Linked DNA regions of Homo sapiens: region 2 is linked to region 1. Evidence: fine-mapped expression QTL. Tissue or cell type: whole blood. Region 1 holds a variant in brackets; the other region holds the start of a gene. All regions are shown on one strand. Distances are between the middles of the regions.

Region 1 (8,103 bases):
GTAGATGCTGTGTGGTCATGTGTTCCTTTTGTGGTGTGCTCAAGAAAAGGGGGGGAGTATATGTGTATTGGGGAGGCGGTGTGGTTAGCATTGGCCAAATTATTATATTTAGAGATCATGATTTATGTCATTGTTATCTTTGCAGGAAGTGGAATTTTGGAAGGGCTCATTTGGCCAGCTTGTCTCATGGTAGCTACCAGAAGTCTCATGGTAGCTAGCATTGCCTCTTGTGTCTCTTCAGGAAACTGAGTACACAGAAATCCAGTCCTAAACACCAGAAACTGCAAGTGGTTATATTACAAATTAATCTGTCTAGAGTACTTTTAAATAAGTTCAACTCCCAGCATTCAAGTAACTCCATGGGACTCCATTGTTATAATTTAGTTTTCACCCTTTGTTGGTTGTTAGGCTTTTCATGTAGAAATACTCCCAGCATGGTGGCAGTAGAAGCAGCAGTCATAAGATCTAACATTTATTGAGCCTGTACTAGTTACCAGCCGCCTAAATTCCTTTCATGCATCATCTCATTCATTCATCACAACAATTCTCTGACCCCATGATGTAGATGCAGTTGTTATCCCCATGATTCAGATGAGGAAATTGAGACCCAGAGAAGCAGCTAGCTAGTAGGGCTCAAACTGTGAAGTGTGACTCTGAGCTGTGCTTCTGACCTCTGGCAGACTACCTGTCATAGAGACATGATCCATTCACCAAACAAGAACTCACTGAAAACCTGCTGTGTGCAGATCCTTCCTTGTGAGGCACATCGAGGGGAAAACTGTTCTGGCTTGTGGAAACAGCAGATTACAGCTTACCAGTGGAACAGCTTATTCTAGCTGGTATTTGACAACATAAGCTAGATCTTCACTTCTGTGATGGTCAGAAGGGAGATTCAGTGTTTTGTGGAAGTGAGGGGTTTGCAAAAGTGGTGTTAGTACACAAACCAGGTGACTGGAATTTGGGAGCCCTTATAGAAGGGAGGTCAACAAGACACTAAAGCATAAGACTGTCAGGGAAAGACCTGGTGGAGAGGTAGGGTGAAACACTGGACAAATTCTGCCAAGTATGGAATTGTCACCCTGTTCCCCTTGGAAAGGTTAGAGTGTAGAACAGAGATGATCTTTTGCGTGGTGGGAAATGTCCCAGAAGTGGAAGAGTGGGGCCTTGGACTCCAGGCTTCTGCTAGTCCTCCATGTGGTTAATGGGGGGGCCTCTCCTGTCTCTTGAAACCTTTCATGTGGGCACCACTTTTAACCTCCCTGAAAGTACTCAGCCCTGTTTCAGACTCACAGGTTGCCTACTTTTGAAGAGACTCTAAGCTCTATAAGCATTTGGGAATTTAGTTTTGCATTGGGTAGGGCCAGTGCCTTGAGAACAGGTCCATTGTTGTTTTATAATAGTTTATTATTTTACATAATATGGAAACTCAAGGTTTTGCCTCAGAACTGGTATTGGGGTGATTGTAAGAGGCCCAGTGACATGTGGCAGTGCTCAAGTGTGATAGCCTCTGGGAGGTGTTGTTTCTTTGTTGTTTTACTTTTCAAGCAGGAAGAGCCGTGTGGACTGGAGGGCAATGAGAGGAGGCTGTCCTGTCTCTTAGAGTGTGTTTGGGATGGGGGTTCCCAGTGTGCCTTGCTCCTTTGTGAGGGCATCGGAGCAAGTTATGGAACTGGCAGATACTGAATTACGGTAAGTACTTCAAGGTCTGTTTCCTGCTTCTTCCTGTCTGCGGAGAAGGACTGTTTTTTGTTTGTTTGTTTGTTTGTTTGTTTGTTTTGAGACGGAGTCTTGCTCTGTCGCCCAAGCTGGAGTGCAGTGGCACGATCTCGGCTCACTGCAACCTCCGCCTCCCGGGTTCAAGTGATTCTCCTGCCTCAGCCTCCTGAGTAGCTGGGATTACAGGTGCGCACCACCACACCCAGCTAATTTTTGTATTTTTAGTAGAGGCTGGGTTTCACTATGTTGGTCAGGCTGGCCTTGAACTGCTGACCTCGTGATCCGCCCGCCTTGGCCTCCCAAAGTGCTGGGATTACAGGCGTGAGCCACTGCGCCCGGCCTCGATTCCCCCCCGACCCATTCTTGTTGCCCAGGCTGGAGTGCACTACAACCTCCGCCTCCCAGGTTCAAGCGATTCTCCTGTCTTAGCCTCCCTAGTAGCTGTGATTACAGGCACACGCCACCACATCTAGCTGATTTTTTTATTTTTAGTAGAGATGGGGTTTCATCGTATTGGTCAGGCTGGTCTTAAACTCCTGACCTCGGGTGATCTGCCTGCCTCCGCCTCCCAAAGTGCTGGGATTACAGGCATGAGCCACTGTGCTGGCAGGACTGTTTTGAAACTAGTAACAGAGAATTACGTCTTGTGTGCTACCAGCTCAGTTATAACTGACCTATCTTCTCTATTTGCTACTGTTATTATCATTGTTATTTTGCTCACAGCAGCTGGGTAGTTTCAGCAAAATAATACTGAGAAGCAATCTGGATTAGGAGGCCAGCATTCTGGGCTCCTTTTTTCCCATCTGTGGAATACCACCATCAGCAAGCCTGCATCAAGAACCGTTTCTTGACACTTGCCCTGGGTACCAGCCTCTGGAAATGCAAGGATGGGTAAAACATGGTCCCTGCCCTAAAACTCGTCAGTGCCTCATAACCAGCAAGGACAAGTGGAGGGGCCTGCAAGTGGGAAGTGGTTGGGAAAAGAAGAGGAAGTGATGCTCTCAAATGTGCAGGGCTTGTCATGTGGAGGAGGATGATGTGGGGAAGGAAAACGTCCTTCTAGGCAAAAAGCAGTTTAAGTACAGGCCCTGGAGTATGAAAATATGAGGCTTAGTTGAGGACAGGGTAGGGCAAAAAGTGGAATGTGACTAGAGGATAGGGCTTAGGCGTGTTGTATTGAGTTGGAATGATGAGAAGTGTTGGCCCTGGAAAAATGGACGGGGGCTCGGTGGTGGAGTCTGTTGTGAGCCATCAAATGCTTTGGAGCAGGACTGTGATGTGAGCAGCTCTGTGGTTCAGAGAACTGCTAACCCTTTAGAAAATTTAAGTCGGAGAGAAGACAAGGTGTTTAGCAAACTGCAGTGTGAACTTGGAATTTGGTATTCTCTTTAACAGAATAACTTCTTCCCTTTTTTTTTACAAGAGATTTTTCAACCCAGGATATGTGGGCTGCCTTCTGAAGCCTTGTTAAATGATAGGGGAAAGGTGGGAACATTTATTTTCAGCAAATATAATTCAACAATGTTTAGACTTCCCTAATTGTGTTGTACTAGTTGGTACTTACTTAAGGTCATTAGAGATTGGAATTCTTTAGAGGAGAGGGACTCATTTCTCAAAAATATTGAGGATGGACACTGGGAGCTGAACTGGGACAATGTATTCCTCGTAACCACGAGTTTGGTGTGTCAGTTGGGAGTGACTGCAGGGTGGGATAGGTGTGAGCAGAGGGCCAGCTAATTTGCTGTCTTGATGACTCTGTGGGTGATGGCTTTAGGGGCTGGCAGCGTCTGGTGGAAATAGAATCTGTTCAAAAGGTGGAGCTGCCTTACAGCAATTGCCAGCTCGCTGCTCACCTGCAGAGCATGTGCCCTCATCTGGGTCACGACTCTGCCCCTCAGATGTTCCTGGTCCTCTGCTTGGATCCACCCCCTTCACTGCAGCTGAAACAGCCAACAAAGGAGCATCATGTGCCCGAGGCCTGAAAAGTTAGAGTGGATGTGAAGGAAGTCAGACTGCAGGCCCCAAAGACAATTAATGGTGTAGTAATTATTGTAGAGGCACAACATTGCCTTGTACTCTCAGGTTTTCAGAGTCCTCTGGGGAAGAAATACGAATTTTTTATAGCCTGACTTTATACATTTCAAAGCTTGTACTCATGGACTAAGGGACTTGGATGGGAGGGTTGTGCAAAATGGGGGTAGGCCTCCTGTAAACTTGGTGGGTTGGACAGAACACATACCTCAATCATTTCCATCACTGAAAACAGATTGTTTCATTTTATGATTTTCCGAATTGTTGGCGAACATTTTTTGTTTAGTTTTGTTTTTTCATGTGTTCTCGCATTTGAGATTGTGCAGGAGGAAGTAGGATTCTGGTAAGCTGAAGTGGAGCTTTTGGGGGACCTGGAGGGGAGCTGGGTTGGAGGCAGTGTCTGAAAGTGCTGCTTTTAGTGGGTTCGACCAGGGCACACTACTTAGGGGAAGCAGAGCACCATGTATGTCTCTGTGTGTAATCATCTCAACAACTTCATGAGGTGTAGCTGTTATTTTCTCCTTTTTAAAGACAGGAAACTGAGGCTTAGAGATGCTCCTGTTTCTGAGATCATGCAGCCAGTGACACATGACCAGGAAGCTTTATGGCAGGCTTTAAGAGTTGTTCTTTTAGATAATCTCAATATACGGTGATACCTGGAGAGTTTCTACCACTTGACTCAATTTGTTTGTCTTGGGGCCGGGCGTGGTGGCTCACACCTGTAATCCCAGCACTTTAGGAGGCCAAGGCGGGCAGATCACCTGAGTTCAGGAGTTCGAGACCAGCCTGGCCAATATGGTGAAACCCCATCTCTATTAAAAATAGAAAAATTAGCCAGGTGTGGTGGTGGGCACCTGTAATTCCAGCAACTCGGGAAGCTGAGACAGGAGAATTGCGTGAATCCGGGAGGCGGAGGTTGCACTAAGCTGAGATTGGGCCACTGCACTCCAGCTTGGGCAACAGAGTGAGACTCCGTCTCAAAAAAAAAGTTATGCTTTTGAGCTTAACACATTATTTGAATACCTCCAGCTTCATCTGAAATATCCTTAATTGAGCAATTGCTATGCTAGGTTTAGGCATGGTGGAGTTTGGTGTTTCTTGCCTTTGGGGAGTTGACATTATGAAAGGAATTCTTATGCCATGTGGACCCTGAGCCAAGTTCCCATGGGAAGGCCAAGGCTCACAGAAGCTCGCAGGAG[T/G]GGGTCTGCACTTCTAGGAAAAGCACAAGTAGGGGCTGAGAGCCCAGCAGGAAAGCAGGTTGGTTTTGAGTTTACAGTGTAATTTGGTGTTGAGGAAGGTGTCTGAGAAGATGGGTTGGAGGGATAGTGGGGCAAGGTGGAAGGTGGGGCAGGATTTGACCTTTTCTTCTTAATTTAAGTGGTAGGGAGTCCAAAGTTTTTGAGTAGAGAAGTCACAGTTGGCCTGCTTAGGCCTTGGAGACACCCTCAACAGTGGGCATGTGGTTTGTGTGTCTGTGCTTTGGGTGACTGCCGTGGCTCACTTCACTGTTTGCTTTTTGGCCTGAGGCAGAGAGTGCCTCCCATGGCAGCTCGTACAGGATGAACCAAGAGGCAGCACCCAGGATATCTGAATTGCCTAAAGCCACTGCAGTGATGTACACACATAGCGAAGCTTTATTTCTTTACAGCCATAGACTTGTTGAAAAGCTGAATCACATACTTTGCTTGATATTTGACTTTGTGGTTACCAATTCCAGGTGAGCCACCTTCGAGAGGGGTAACATCCTGTTGTCGGAAAGGTGCAGCCGGGCAGCAGGGAACCTGGGTTCCACTTTAGCCCTGACATAGAAGGTTTTGGTTCATGTCCCTTTGGTCTGGTAGGCCCCTTTTTGGTGCTTGTTTACGGAACTGATTTATCTTGTTTATAATGTTGGTAGACGGGTGTATATACCAAGACCTCTGGTTTACTGAAGGTAGGGCCAAGAGCTTTCCAGCAGTCTGTTGAGTGGAGCTACGGGTCAGTCAGCACACCTGGCCCAGAGCACCGTGAGCTGGTGAACCTACTTGTCCCAGGTGTTGTAGTGTGGCACTTGAGCCCACTCTACTGACTCTCCCCTCCCTCACTCAATTTTGGAGTCTTGCTGTCTTTGCCTGTTGCTGTTCTCTGCCTCAGCCCAAAAGGAGACAAGGAGTGCCTTCACCTGCCCTCACTGGGGGCAAGAGCAAGTCTGGATAAATGACTTTTACTGATAATTCCTCCAAATCATTTTTATCCTCCATAGCCAACACTCCTTCCTCTAAAAACCTGCAAAGTAGTAGTAGTAAATCCCTTTCCATTCCTCTCCTTTGCTCTTTCAGGCCTCTGGTAAAGCTGGAAGCGCCTGAAAGAGAGGCAACCGAAGCCAAGGCTGCCATAATCCACGCGCTCTGGACGTCACCCTGGGTGACTCAGATTTGGTTGCATTTGTCATTTCACAACCACCTGCATCTGATCCCACTGTGTGGGCAAACTGTCTGCTGGGAGTCTCTGCCTGGTGCCTGGTCTTGGGGGCATAGTGTTCTTCCCCAGAATTGCTTTTCCCAGCTGTTTCTCTATAGCTTTAGTCATGGGGTTCACTAGTGAAAGCTGCCATGCCTACCCTCCCCATTTACTTTTGTTAGTAGTCATTTCTTTTTTTTTTTTTCGAGATGGAGTCTTGCTCTGTCACCCAGGCTGGAGTGCCATGGCGTGATCTTGGCTCACTGCAACCTCTGCCTCCTGGGTTCAAGCAATTCTTCTGCCTTAGTCTCCCGAGTAGCTGGGCTTATAAGCACCTGCCACCACACCCAGCTAACTTTTGTATGTTTAGTAGAGATGGGGTTTTACCATGTCGGCCAGGCTGGTCTCAAACTTCTGACCTCATGATCCATCCACCTTGGCCTCCCAAAGTGTTGGGATTACAGGCGTGAGCCACTGCTCCTGACTGTTAATAGTCATGTCTTTTTTTTTTTTTTTTTTTTTTTTTTTGAGACGGAGTCTTGCTCTGTCGCCCAGGCTGGAGGTCAGTGGCGCGATCTCGGCTCACTGCAAGCTCCGCCTCTCGGGTTCACACCATTCTCCTGCCTCAGCCTCCGGAGTAGGTGGGACTACAGGCGCCCGCCACTGCGCCCGGCTAATTTTTTGTATTTTTAGTAGAGACGGGGTTTCACTGTGGTCTCGATCTCCTGACCTTGCGATCCATCCACGTCGGCCTCCCAAAGTGCTGGGATTACAGGCGTGAGCCACCGCGCCCGGCCAATACTCATTTCTAAGAAGCAAATATGTACCATCGTATGCCAGTCATGGTAAATGCTTTCTGTGCATTATCTTCATAGTCCTCACAACAGTCCTATTAAATTGGTATAATTATCCTCATTTTGCAGATTTGGAAGGTGGCATTTGGGGAGGTTACCCTAATCTTTTCAGTTACCTAACTTAATGTACAGGAGGCATTATACCTCTTGCAGTCTGTATTTCATCTGATTTAATCTTTGCATCAACTTAAAAGTTCACTGTTATTTCTGTTTACAGATGAGGAAGCTGGGGCTTAGTTTAAATAACTTGCCCAAGGTTACTCTAGCTAGTTAGTGAGGGAGTCTGAATTCAAACCCAGGCCAGTGTACTCCAATACAAGTGCTCTTCATCTTTTCACTTCTGCATTTGTTTTTTAAGTAAAAATATCCACTTTTGGGCTGACAAAGCTGATAGCTTCTCGAACTCCTGGCCTCAAGGGATCCTCCCATCTCTGCCTCCCAAAGTGGTAGGATTACAAGTGTAAGCCACACGCCCGGCCAAAGCTGATGGCTTCTATTGGATTTGTTTTCTAATGCTTTGTCCATTTTTAAATGGGGGAAGAAAGGGAGATAATGTACTATAGGTTAAGCTCCTTGAGGACTTTTTTTTTTTTTGGAGACAGAGTCTCCTCTGTCATCCAGGCTGGAGTGCAGTGGTGTGATCTTGGCTCACTGCGACCTTCACCTCCTGGGTTCCTGTGATTGTCGTGCCTCAGCCTCCCAAGTAGCTGGGACTACAGGCACATGCCACTACTCCCAGCTAGTTTTTGTATTTTTAGTAAAGATCGGGTTTTTTTGGTTTGTTTGTTTGAGACAGAGTTTTGCTCTTGTTGCCCAGGCTGGAGTACAATGGTGCAATCTCGGCTCACTGCAGCCTCTGCCTCCCGGGTTCAAGCGATTCTCCTGCCTTAGCCTCCGAAGTAGCTGGGATTACAGGCATGCGCCACCATGCCTGGCCAATTTTTGTATTTTTAGTAGAGACAGGGTTTCATCATGTTGGTCAGGCTGGACTCGAACTCCTGACCTCAGGTGATCTACCTGCCTCGGCCTTCCAAAGTGCTGGGATTGCAGATGTGAGCCACCG
Region 2 (8,093 bases), 180 kb after region 1:
GGATCATCACTTGAGCCCAGAAGTTTTAGACTAGCCTGGGCAACATAGCAAGACCCTGTCTCTACAAAAAAAAATTACAAAAATTAGCCGGGCTTGTTGGGGCATGACGGTAGTCCTAGCTACTCAGGAGGCTGAGGCAAGAGGATCACTTGAGCCCAGGAGTTCGAGGCTGCAGTGAGCTATGCTCGTGCCACTGCACTCCAGCCTGGGGAACAGAGCAAGTCTCTGTCTCTAAAAATAAATAAGTAAGGATAAATTCTAGATGTACTATTGATAACGGTTTTGCTGTGTCCCCAACCAAATCTCATCTTGAAGTGTAGTTCCCATAATCTGCACATCGTGGGAGGAACCTGGTGGGAGGTAAATGAATCACGGGGACGGTTACCTCCATGCTGTTCTCGTGAAAGTGAGTTCTCACAAGATCTGATGGTTTTTATAAGGGGCTTTCCCCACCCTTTGCTCTGCACTTCTCCTTGCTGTCACCTTGTGAAGAAGGACATGTTTGCTTCAATTTCTGCCATGATGGTAAGTTTCCTGAGGCCTCCCCAGTCATGCTGAACTGTGGGTCAATGAAACCTTTTTCCTTTATAAATTACCCAGTCTTGGGTATGTCTTTATTAGCAGCATGAGAACAGATGAATACAATTACATACATTTTACATATATTAAATAGTATGTAACACTAACCAAATCTGTGGGTTCATCTTCTTCTACCTCGGCTTCATCATCTTCATCCTCAATTATGGAATCTTCTACTGTTTCTTCATCCTCTGTAAGATCTTGTGCCACTGCTAACAAGCCTAATGATAAAATACAGAAAAAGCAGTTACCCTTTACTCTGAAATACTAATTTCTTTTTTTAACATCAGGTATAGGCAAAAAAAACTTCCCTTGGACTAACAGAATCTCCCAGTTCACCTGAATGATGCCAATTACAATGCACCGAAGAATATTTATATTTTAGTTTACTAGTAGTCTTAACAACTGCATATCAATTTTTTTTTTTTTTTTTTAAGAGTCAGGGTCTTGCTCTGATGCCTAGGTTGGGAGTACAGTTGTGCAGTCATAGCTCACTGCAGCCTCAAACTCCTGGGCCCAAGTGATCCTTCCACCTCAGCTTCCTGGGTAGCTAGGACTAGAGGCGTGAACCACTGTTCCCTGCCTTCCATGTTATTTTTAATGGGAAATGTGGTTTAACTTCAAAAAGTGCCCAACAGATGGAAAAATGAATGGCACAAACTAAAGATGCCTTGAAGCACAAAGAACTTCAAGCAACTTTGTTAAGCAAATTAAGGAAAATAATTTTTTGCAAAGATAAGAAACTTCTAAATGTAATCCCTGTCATTAACCATACAAAGCAAACTAAACAACCCCCACGTTTAAAAGAAAACAGCATTCTTGGCCGGCGCGGTGGCTCACGCCTGTAATCCCAGCACTTTAGAAGGCTGAGGAGGGTGAATTACTTGAGGCCAGGAGTTCAAGACCAGCCTGGCCAATACAGAGAAACCCCGCCTCTACTGAAAATGCAAAAATTAGCTGGGTGTGGTGGCACACACCTGTGGTTCCAGCTACTCCAGAGGCTGAGGCAGGAGAATCGCTTGAACCCAGGAGGCAGAAGTTGCAGTGAGCCAAGATTGTACCACTGCACTCCAGCCTGGGCGACACAGCAAGACACCGTCTCAAAAAAATAAAAATAAAAAAATAAAGCATTCTTAAGTTCTAATGTTCTATGTAGGAAACACTGTTATCAGAGGTGACTACAGCTGAAACTCTTAGAACTGGATAGTTTGTAAGCCAAGGAACAAATATCTGTAATCATATCCATGGTAAAAACTGGCTTGCATGAAAAACATTGTTTAGTAAAAACTGTATTGGTAGCTTCAGGTTTGATAGCAAAGAAAGAATCCAATTATTTTTGCATGTGGCTTCAAACATGTTTTAAGATATTTTTTCTCAAACTTAGTGTTACAAAGTACAGGTATAATGCAAAAAAAAGGTGAATCACAGTTTTATAGACAATAGTACTCTAAGTAAGTCACATTATATCTATTTCAGGCAAGACCATAAAAAGAATTTCAAAGTTCTAGTGTCTTCCAACATCTCTCAGAAAAAATGATGATGTGGCAATTCTGTGGATAAAAAACATGGGAAGGGAAGCGTGTTTTCACCCAGGAGAAACAGTTAAGGACCATGCATTTGCAGTCTTTTCCATGTCTTTAAGTTCTCACTGGCTGCTAAGATTTATTGCAAAATATTAAAGAACACTGAACCATGCATTATGAACTAAAGAGATTTCACTGCCTGCTGAACAAAGCCTAAAATAGTGCATTCATAACTTACAAGTCCTTTTCAAAAACCAGTAAGAAAAATACCATGTCTGATATAGTAATTTAAAGTCGTGGTTAAATTTGAGCACTTTGGAATATAAAGGCCTTTCATAAATATTAAACAATTTTATTATTTTAATGTTAACCAATAACAATTTTGTCCCCATGAAGTCTAACAGTCTTCATTCAACTGGAAAAACCAAACACAAAAACCGTTTCTCACAAAAAATGTTTACAAGATATTAATTCAGTTTAGATAATGAATTCATGCTTCTTGAAAGTTTTTATAACTTGAAAATAGTTATAAATAGTTCTAAAACTAAAACTACATTTGTCAAGTTTTCTTTTAAAAAGCTTAAAGAGTACCAGCAAACGACTCCTAAAGTAAAAAATCTTGTTAAACCTGCAGATTAACTCATTAACAGTTGTTTAATTCTCCCACTTGGTTTTCTAGCCATTAAACAGAAGCCAGTCACTTCACTTTTCATCGCAAAACAACTCGTGAATACCTGTCACTACCGTTAAGACACACAGCTTGCTTAAACTTACAGAATGAAAGGGATGCTTAGTCAGACTAATTATTTCACTTTACAAATTAGAAAGTCGAAGTTCACGACAAAACCTGTGCAGGAAGTCAAGTTGCCATATTTTTATATTCTGCTAAGTTATTTTCACACTTAATTGCTGGGTTAATTGTTGAAAGAATAAATCTATGTATTAAAAACACTCGAAGTAGGCCACATTTTTTCAGCACAATACGATGTTTCCACAAACAAAAAATTGTTCCATGGAAAGACAAGAAGAGGAAGAAGGCAGAAGGGAGACATCCCACAGGGATTCTTCAGTCTGCTTGGCAGCAGGGGCGGATAACGGGGGTGACGATGGGGTAGTTTTTCTGAAATCAAGCCTCCTAGTAACACATACGGGTCAAGCAGGGCGTGAACAAGGCAGATGACCATTGAACAAGACACTCTGATGGCTTAGATGTGTAGAAAACAAGGGTTTTGGCAAATGAATGAAGACGGACTCCCGGCGTGGAAGCTAAAGACACGTCAGCCCTGAGCGCGAGGGGCTGGGGGTGGAGCGGAGCCGGAGGTGGCCAAAAGAAACAGCCCGGCTGCGGCGCGCTCGGAGCGCAGCCGTGTCCAGCGCCTCCTCCTGCAGCCGAGGACCCTCCAGTTCTGGCCGCTCCTGCAGGCGAGGGTCCAGGGCAAGAGGAGCAAGCCCAGCCCTCGGCCGGCCACGAAGCAAGGTCGCCCGGGCACGGCCCCGCGCTCCGCGTGCAAGGGGCAGGCCGCAGCGGGGTCTCCAGCGCCCGCGGGGACCCCTGCTGCTACGAGCCTAGGCTTGGGGAGAGGGCGGAGAGAGGCCAGCGGGGTGGACGCGGACCCCAGGACCCGGAGCGGCCACCGCCTCCAACTTCAAACTTGCCATCACTGGCATCTCCTTCCTGGCCATCCCCTCCGCACACTCCCCCAGCCTCACCTCTGGGGCCGCCTCGGAACAAGACAGTGGCAGGGAACACGAGTAAGAGAAGCAGCAGCAAGCGGGGGAGGAGTCTCATGGCGCTGCCGGTCCAGTGTCCAGTTTCCGTCGGCTAAGGCTCTCGGCGGCTCCGGCGGTAATGGCGTTACTCTTCATCCGGGCTCCGGGCAGCGAGGGGCGGGACACGTACCGCGCACGGGCCTTTGCCACGCCCCTCCCTGGACCAGGGACCGCCGCCGACGTGGCTGCTCAGCGCGGAGAGGTGGGGAGAGCAGGCCACCGGGAAGTCACGTGGCCGGCTGCTGCCTCTTTGTGGCTCCCGCGAGAGTCCGCCTTCCGCCGCAGTTGCGACCCGGCAGCTTGCGGTTAGCCGTTCTTTCCGCCCAGTTCTTTACTTCCAATTAATTAGCATTGTCAGTGGTTACTTTATTTGAATGACGATCCTCTTGATAACGGCGATGTAAGGAACATGAGCTGCCTTTATGTGGCACTTAAAAGCAAAAAATTTTGTTGGAAGAGAGGACATTGTTCAAAGGAAAAACCATGAAAATACACAGTGGAAAATCTTTGTCCCCTGTCTGCCCACACCCTCTCCCATGGTTAAGTAATGACAATTCTTAAATTATTATTTTTGAGACGAAGTCTTGCTCTGTCGCCCAGGCCAGAGTTCAGTGGCACCATCTCTGTTCACCGCAACCTCCGCCTCCCGGGTTCAAGCGATTCTCCCGCCTCAGCCTCCTAAGCAGCTGGGACTACAGGCGCGCACCACTACGCCCGGCTAATTTTTGTATTTTTACTGGAGACGGGGGTTTCACCATGTTGGCCAGACTAATCTCAAACTCCTGACCTCAGGTGATCCACCCGCCTGGGTCTCTCAAAGTGCTGGGATTACAGGTGTGAGCCACTGCGCCTGGCCAGCAATTCTTAAATTCGTATGTGACATTCCAGAATTATAAGTCACCTAAACAGTGTTTTGGTATGTAGTCAGCATTTGTAACTATACAATAGGTGCAGCAATGGCTGTCCAGTTTTCTTTAGTTTCCTTTTCATCTATTTTGGATTTGAGTTGCTGGAGTAATATAGCAGTTCATGAAATTAATCTGAATATTAAGTAATCTTGGTCTGGACCAGAGTGAGATGTCATAAAGATGAGGAAATAAATCATATGCTTACTATTGTCAATCACCTCCTTAGAGCTGTGCTTTTTCATTTAATTTTCTAAACCTCTCTATGAGCTGGATATTATTTACTGAGGAGAAAACAGACCCAGAGAGGTTAGTAATTTACTCAAAGCTTCAAAACGCTAGCAAACGGCAGATGCAAGATTTGAACAAGGCTATCTGGTTCCAGATTCCATACACTACTGACCTAGGACATTTGCTGTTCTACTCCTGCATTGTTTCCGCTTCAGGTCTCCTTGTCCTGGGGGCTGTAAATGCAGCTTGGACCCACTGCCACCACTACCTACAGTCTGCTAAAGTCACAGCCTGATGGTGCTGGGCTGAATCAACCAAATTCCACTCTGCCAGGCCACCAGTGGCACCGCTGCTGTGTTGCTGCTGCTACTAGGGCGCCCAGCATAAGTGGAGGGCCTCCTCTCACTTTGCTGCTGCCTCTGCTCCTGTGCACGCTACCAGTGTTGCCACTCTATGTCAGAGCTGTGTCTGGAATAGGGTTCTTGGTCTCACTGACTTTAAGACTGAAACCGCAGACCCTCGTGCTGAGTGTTACAGTTCTTAAAGTCCAGAGTTTGTTCCTTCATCATGTTCGGATGTGTTCCGAGTTTCTTCCTTCTGGTGGGTTCATGGTCTCACTGGCTCAGGAGTGAAGCTACTAGACCATCGCAGTGAGTGTTACAGCTGTTAAGGTGTCCATTCCTCCTGGTGGGTTCATAGTCTCGGTGGCTTTAGGAGTGAAGCTGCAGACCTTCGCGGTGAGTGTTACAGCTCATAAAGGCAGTGAGCAGCAGCAAGATTTATTGCAAAAAACAAAGCTTCTGAGAGGTGACAGCATGCTGGCAGTACTCAGCCCTCGCTCGCTCTCGGCGCCTCCTCTGCCTGGGCCCCCACTTTGGTGGCACTTGAGGAGCTCTTCAGCCCACCGCTGCACTGTGGGAGCCCCTTTCTGGGCTGGCCAAGGCCGGAGCCAGCTCCCTCAGCTTGCCGGGAAGGTGTGGAGAGAGGCGTGGGCGGGCGGGAACTGGGGTTACGCGCGGTGCTTGCCAGCCAGTGCGAGTTCCGGGTGGGCGTGGGCTTGGCGGGCCCTGCAGTGGGAGCGGCCAACTGGGCCAGGCGGGGGGCAGTGAGGGGCTTAGAACCTGGGCCAGCAGCTGCTGTGCTCGATTTCTCACCGGGCCTTAGCTGCCTTCCCGCGGGGCAGGGCTCGGGACCTGCAGCCCACCATGTCTGAGCCTCCCCCAACCCCATGGGCTTCTGTGCAGCCGGAATCTCCCCGACCAGCGCCACCCCCTGCTGCACGGTGCCCAGTTCCTTCCACCACCCAAGGGCTGATCAGTACAGGTGCACAGGCATGGGACTGGCAGACAGCTCCACCTGCAGCCCCAGTACGGGTTCCACGGGGTGAAGCCAGCTGGGCTTCTGAGTCTGGTGGAGACGTGGAGAACCTTTATGTCTAGCTCAGGGATTGTAAACACACCAATCAGCACCCTGTGTCTAGCTCAGGCTTTGTGAATGCACCAATCGACACTTTGTATCTAGCTACTCTGGTGGGACCTTGGAGAACCTTTGCGTCCACGCTCTGTATCTAGCTAATCTAGTGGGGACGTGGAGAACCTTTGTGTCTAGCTCAGGGATTGTAAACGCACCAATCAGTGCCCAGTCAAAACAGGCCACTCGGCTCTACCAATCAGCAGGGTGTGGGTGGGGCCAGATAAGAATAAAAGCAGGCTGCCCTGAGCTTAGCAGCGACAACAGGCTCCAGTTTCTTTCCATGCTGGGAAAATATCTGTTCTTTTGCTCTTTAAGCTCATATTGCCTTTATGAGTTATAACACTCATTATGAAGGTCTGCAGCTTCGCTCCTGAAGCTAGGGAAATCACGAACCCGCCAGGAAGAATGAATAACTCAAGATATGCCACCTTAAGAGCTGTAACGCTCACTGTGGAGGTCTGTGGGTTTACTCTTGGGCTAGTGAGATTACAAGCCCACCAGAAGGAAGAAACTCCGGATACACTGCCTTTAAGAACTGTAGTACTCACTGTGAGGGTCTGTAGCTTCATTCTTTAAGTCAGGGAGGCTAATGAGCCCCCAATTCTGGACACTGGAGTGGGACCTGAGCAGGTTGCCACTGATTCAGGCAGCCTGCTTTTTTTTCCGTTTATTTGGCTTCACATTCTGCTGGTTGGTTTATTTTAGAGCTGATTGGTGTGTTTTCAATTGGTGAGCTAGACACAAAGTTCTCCATGTCCCCACTGGGTTAGCTATACACAGAGTGTCAATTGGTGTGTTCACAAACCCTGGGCTAGACACAGTGCTGATTGGTACATTCACAATCCCTTAGTTAGACATTCTCCAAATCCCCACCAGATTAGAGTGCCAATTGGTGCATTCACAAACCCTGAGCTAGATACAGTGTGCTGATTGGTGTGTTTATAAACCTTGAGTTAGATACAGAGTGCTGATTGGTGTGTTTATAATCCCTCAGCTAGGCAGAAAGATTCTCTAAATCTCCACTAGATTCAGGAGCCCAGCTGGTTTCACCCAGTGGATCCCACACCGGGGCTGCAGGTGGAGCTGCCTGCGAGTCCCGCGCGGTGCGCCAGCACTCCTCAGCCCTTGGGTGGTCGATGGGACTGGGCGCTGTGGAGCTGGGGGTGGCGCTCGTCGGGGAGGCTCAGGCATGGTAGGCTGCAGGTCCCGAGCCTTGCCCCACGGCGGAGCAGGTAAGGCCTAGCGAGACATAGAGCACAGCAGCTGCTGGCCCAGGTGCTAAGCCCTTCACTGCCCGGACCCGCTGGCCGCTCCGAGTGCGGGGCCCGCCAAGCCCACGCCCACCCGGAACTCGCGCTGGCCCACAAGCGCCGCGCGCAGCCCTGGTTCCCGCCCGCGCCTCTCCCTCCACACCTCCCCGCAAGCTGAGGGAGCCGCTTCTGGCCTTGGCCAGCCCAGAAAGGGGCTCCCACAGTGCAGCGGCGGGCTGAAGGGCTCCTCAAGCGCTGCTGGAGTGGGCGCCAAGGCCGAGGAGGCCCCCAGAGCGAGCAAGGACTGCCAGCACGCTGTCCCTGCTTTGAGGTGACTGTACCTTACAGAGTTCTCCACTGAC

What was found. PIP is the estimated chance that this variant, and not a neighbour inherited with it, causes the effect.
Region 2: SSR1 starts here. The variant in region 1 is fine-mapped to the expression of SSR1 in whole blood (TOPMed, PIP above 0.99).

The regions. Positions count from the first base shown.
Region 1 is chr6:7,124,243-7,132,345 of GRCh38, forward strand. The region is part of intron 1 of RREB1 (ras responsive element binding protein 1); the gene reads left to right. Among named protein-coding and RNA genes, the nearest start is that of RREB1, 20 kb to the left of the region's middle. RefSeq lists an enhancer at 119-637. The variant T/G (reference allele first, on the strand shown) is at 4,947.
Region 2 is chr6:7,309,230-7,317,322 of GRCh38, forward strand. It overlaps SSR1 (signal sequence receptor subunit 1), which reads right to left and starts at 3,970. Exons shown (of 8, transcript NM_003144.5): 1 at 3,813-3,970; 2 at 688-800. The coding sequence starts at 3,891. RefSeq lists enhancers at 3,134-4,002, 4,003-4,869, 4,206-4,275, 4,286-4,345 and silencers at 3,426-3,475, 3,606-3,715.